Linked DNA regions of Homo sapiens: region 1 is linked to region 2. A link means that fine-mapping ties the variant in region 2 to the expression of a gene that starts in the linked region. Tissue or cell type: skeletal muscle. Region 2 holds a variant in brackets; the other region holds the start of a gene. All regions are shown on one strand. Distances are from middle to middle.

Region 1 (2,500 bases), 36 kb before region 2:
CATCCTCCCCCTTCCCTCATCTCTTTGACATGCTCACACGATTTGCTCAATGAGACGCCAGTTATCCGAATGTGTGTGTGTGTGTGTGGGTGTGTGTGTGACAGTGTGTGTGTGTTTTAATATTCAGGGGGTGGTCATAAACAGGAAGTAGTCACACTAGGTGCCTCTACCCTTACCCTAACCGGTGGAGTGGGGAGGAGAGGCCCCCTTCGAAATCAGCATGATTCAGGATTTTTTATTCAAACAGTGATGTGGGAAAATGTAAAATGAGATGGGGGTGGAGGGCCGCGTACACCCCAGGGTGGGTGGATACAGGGAGAGCAAGCAGGCTTCCCAAATGCCTAATGTAATCACGGGCCAGCTGCATGCACTTGTAAAGTTGTTATAACCCCCTCCTTGTTATAAACAGGAAAGCCCAGAATATAAAGCTGGAGACCCACATTCACAAATACCAGGCCTCCCGCGCCAGCTGCCACGGCCTCCTTTTATGGTGTTCCTCTCTTGCAACCTTGGCCCCATCAGGAGGACCTTACTTTTGCCCCCGGTTCTCTAAATGGGTTTATTTTGAAACCTTCCTCAATGGAGCTGTGGACCATGAGCTCTTCCCCAGGCCCCCAGTGCCTTAGGCCTTCCCTTCCAGAGAGACTGGGCTCCCAGAGTCCACTTTCCCTCCGATTTCCGGAGAGCCCTGGAAGGGAGGGTGTGGGAGAGCAGGTCCCTAGAGAGTGCCACCTCCTACTGGGTCTGCCACCTGTTTTTCCAGGGAGGGCCGCATCCCCTTCTCAGCAGACACTCAGGCTTCTTAGATACTCTCCCTGCCCCAATCTAAAAGGTTCCTAGGACCTCAGAAAGTGTTTTACTAGACTGTGGCATCTCGATATCTCCGGTTAAGCCTGGGAGAAGAAAAGACCTTTTGTGGGAGGCCCTGGCGTTATGGGGCTCCCCCAGGCCAGCGTAAAACTCATCCCTGCACACCCACCCCCATCTCCACCTCTCCTTCCTGGCTCAGCAGACCCTGCTCTGAGCCACCGCAGTCTACATCCTGCCTCACTGACTGTGTGTGCTTACAGCGTCAAGGGGTGGACGTGATATTTCAAACATCAGATCAGTGCGTTTATATATTGGGTGCCCGGAAATTTTTCCAAATAAACACAGCTTGATTCAACTTGGGTGGGCGGACTTATCAACAGACTAATTCTATAAACAAATGAAGGAATAGCCCCAAAACCGATTGGCTGGTATCAAAAAGACACGTGGAGGGAAAAGCTTGGAGTTTTTCAGCAATGAAATTTTAATTAATGTGGGTGGGCTGAGAACACAAGGACTGTTTATCATAGACAATTTATTTTCCAGGGCTAAGTCAACATATAACAGCAAACTTACAACAATTATTTAACATTTTTAAAGCCATGAAGAAGGGACAGAGCACGGAGCGGCCGGGGAGAGCGGCAGAGCCAGAGGCAGAGGCACGGCTGGCTCCCCGGGAGGGCCCTTGCGGCGCGGGGCGCAGTGCCTAGGCCGCCCGGGTCTCCTGCGTTGCGGGGAGCGCAGCGCAGGCTCTCGCTTGCCATGAGTCACCTCTTCGATCCCCGGCTGCCTGCCCTGGCCGCCTCGCCCATGCTGTATCTGTACGGTCCCGAGAGACCCGGCCTCCCTCTGGCCTTCGCCCCCGCGGCTGCTCTAGCTGCCTCGGGCCGGGCCGAGACCCCGCAGAAGCCTCCCTACAGCTACATCGCGCTCATCGCCATGGCGATCCAGGACGCGCCCGAGCAGAGGGTCACGCTCAACGGCATCTACCAGTTCATCATGGACCGCTTCCCCTTCTACCACGACAACCGGCAGGGCTGGCAGAACAGCATCCGCCACAACCTCTCGCTCAACGACTGCTTCGTCAAGGTGCCCCGCGAGAAAGGGCGGCCGGGCAAGGGCAGCTACTGGACGCTGGACCCCCGCTGCCTGGACATGTTTGAGAACGGCAACTACCGGCGCCGGAAGAGGAAGCCCAAGCCGGGCCCCGGGGCCCCGGAGGCCAAGAGGCCCCGCGCCGAGACGCACCAGCGCAGCGCGGAGGCGCAGCCGGAGGCGGGGAGCGGGGCAGGGGGCTCGGGCCCCGCAATCTCCCGCCTGCAGGCAGCGCCCGCGGGCCCCTCGCCCCTCCTGGACGGCCCCTCTCCGCCGGCGCCCCTCCACTGGCCGGGGACCGCGTCCCCGAACGAGGACGCTGGTGACGCTGCCCAGGGCGCAGCGGCCGTGGCGGTCGGCCAGGCAGCGCGCACAGGGGACGGCCCGGGGTCCCCTCTGCGCCCCGCCTCCCGCAGCTCTCCGAAGAGCTCCGACAAGTCCAAGAGCTTCAGCATAGACAGCATCCTGGCGGGAAAGCAGGGCCAGAAGCCGCCTTCAGGGGACGAACTCCTAGGGGGTGCCAAGCCTGGGCCCGGCGGCCGTCTGGGTGCCTCGCTCCTGGCCGCCTCCTCCAGCCTCCGTCCGCCTTTCAACGCTT
Region 2 (2,847 bases):
ACTTCTGTGTCCAGAAGTGGTTGAGGAATTCAAATTCGCCAATCAGTCAACTACCCCACATAACCCCTGGACAGTGCTGGGGCCAGGGGTGCACCTGGGACCCATATAAGCCACAGTGACCCAGTGGTCATGGACCATTGGGAAAAACATTTCCCTGTTTGGGCCGGTCGCAGTGGCTCACGCCTGTAATCCCAGCACTTTGGGAGGCTGAGGTGGGAGGATCATGAGGTCAGGAGATCGAGACCACGGTAAAACCCCATCTCTACTAAAAATACAAAAGTTAGCCGGGCGTGGTGGCAGGTGCCTGTAGTCCCAGCTACTGGGGAGGCTGAGGCAGGAGAATGGTGTGAACCCGGGAGGCAGAGCTTGCAGTGAGCCGAGATTGCGCCACTGCACTCCAGCCTGGGTGACAGAGCAAGACTCTGTCACCAAAAAAAAAAAAAAAAAATTAAAAAGTAAATAAATAAATAAATAAATAAAAATTTCCCTGCTTGGCAGGGTAGCTCAGAGGGTTAGGACACAAAGTCTGGAGTACAGGAGCCACCGTGCCTCCCTCAGGGAAGCCACACACTCACACACACACATAGAATCACACACACACACTCACACACACATAGAATCACACACACACACACTCACACACACTGTTTAAGCCAGTTTGAGTTAGGTTTTTTCTCTTGCAACCAAAAGAGTTTTGACAATTGCTGAACTCATATTTTATCTACGGAAACTCATGCAAATGTTGCATTCTCTAATAACAGCTACACTTTCAGATTACTATAAAAATAATCTGCATGTATGAGAGAGATGGCAGGGTTTATTGAGTAAACGTGCTGGTGTAATTGGTTATCCACATAGATTAAAAGTGAAATTGCATCTCTATTCTCACCACACACACACACACACACACACACACACACACACACAGCCCAGATGGATTAAGAACTAAAATGTAAAAAGCAAAACTTTAAAAGTTTTAGTGGAAAATGCAGGTGGATATATTCCTGACTTTGATACAGAAAAGGATCTCTTAAACAAGAATTAAAAATGCCCCCTAAAAAAAGAAGACGGACAGAAGCAAGCCCCTCCAGACCAAACTCCTTAAGTAAAAGTGATGGTCCAGGCAGGGGGGCTGCCTTTGTTTTTAACTCCAAGTCCAGGCTTGCATGTCCTGGTTTAGAGGCACGAAGCGAGAGTATCTGTCACATTCTCTTCGGGTTGTCTTTGTTTATGTAGAAGTCCAGCTTTGGAAATTTTTTTTCCTGTGTTGATACTTTTGAATTTTGTAAAATGCGCAGAAACCTGTAACCTGTGCTTTAGAATTTCGAAAGCTGCTGAATCTGGGTTGGCTCTGGGAGGCAAGTCCATGCAAGATGTCAAAGATCATTATAGCCTGACTACAAATGCATCAGTGTGACTTTAAGGGACTTGTAAAAAATGTCTCTTCTTTTCTAAAAGCTTGCCTGTTTGCACGAAGCACACCCTCTGAGATCTGTATGCTTGCTCCAGTCACTCAAACAAGCATTTCCATTTTAGTAGCTGCCAGGGCGGCCTAGGTTATGTGGCAGTAGCAAATCCCCTTTGGATGTCAGTGGCTTTCTATTTCTAGCTAGTACTGAGTGTCCCTTGCAGGTCAGCATGGCTGTGTTCCATGTTTTCTTCAGGTGTTCAACCCAGAACCCAGGAGGAGGAAGCCGCTTTCATTTGCAACATTGTTA[C/A]CTGGAGCTGAGGGAAAAGGGCTTGGCGAACTACGGTCTGGTTCTTAAAGTGACAGGCATTTCCACTCATATTTCATTAGGCCAAGCAAGTCATGTGGCCAAGCTGGACTTAAATGGGGCAGAGGTGTGTAATTCTGTAGGAGGGAAACCAGAATTTTTGGTGCACAGTGCTAAACTCTACTTTGCATTTCAAATTGTTTGTGAAATTGAGACGTGGGCTCTGATAGCAAATAGACAACATTCACATAGTTTACAAGGTCTCACGTCTTTTCCACATGTTCCCTGAAGCATGTTCTATATGGCTTTTGTTCTGTACCCCCAGGGCTCGGCATGCCAGCAGACACATGGCAGGGGCTCAGCCTGTGTTCCTTGCTAGGCAGGTATAGCTGGCCCCACTTTCCAGATAAAAATTAAGACCCAGAGAAGCTCAAAGATAACACAGGCGACACAGAAAGGTTGATTTAGATTTTTTTTTTTTCTGCTACTTGGAGCGGCTTCCCAGGCATGTCTGCAGAGACACTTATTTTATTTGGGGAGCACTCTAAGGCCACGTAGATGTGTGGATCAGCCTCCCCTTGGCCTCCCGCTCCCTACAGCGACCACGACATGCTGAATCTGATGAATGCTGGCTACTGCGGGCTTTTATGTTTATGTATGTGTGCACCTACGTATTTATGTCTAGTGGAGTTTTCAGTTTGGTTTTTTTGTGTATTTGATGTTGTCAGACACGTTGGTGTGAGGTCTTTGTTGGACTGGGGTGTGGACGTACATGATAAGTTATTATTATTCAGAATCATTTATTTTGCATGCTTCTGAATGACAGTAATAGTTGAGGCATGCTGGTTTCAGAAGGAATCCACTCATTCAGAAAATAAGACCCGGGGATCTTCAAAAGTGCAAATGGGATGGGAGGGTGTGTGAAGGCACCTGAGTATCTGATCAACAAAAATCCAAAGGATGATTTTTTGGTTGTTTGTTGTCTACTATATATGCCTCACCATCACCCCAGGTTTTGCTTATATTGAGGGACCTAATTTTTTTTTTATTCGTGAAATTATTAGAAAGCAAACTAGCACACAAGTGATCAACTCTGGTAATATTTGGCGCACTTCTTTACTTAAATTGGATT

The links. PIP is the estimated chance that this variant, and not a neighbour inherited with it, causes the effect.
Region 1: it holds the start of FOXL1, and the variant in region 2 is fine-mapped to the expression of FOXL1 in skeletal muscle (GTEx, PIP 0.98).

What each region holds. Positions count from the first base shown.
Region 1 is chr16:86,577,155-86,579,654 of GRCh38, forward strand. It overlaps FOXL1 (forkhead box L1), which reads left to right and starts at 1,395. Exons shown (of 1, transcript NM_005250.3): 1 at 1,395-2,500. The coding sequence starts at 1,570. RefSeq lists an enhancer at 2,255-2,500.
Region 2 is chr16:86,613,280-86,616,126 of GRCh38, forward strand. No RefSeq gene overlaps it. Among named protein-coding and RNA genes, the nearest start is that of FOXL1, 36 kb to the left of the region's middle. The variant C/A (reference allele first, on the strand shown) is at 1,719.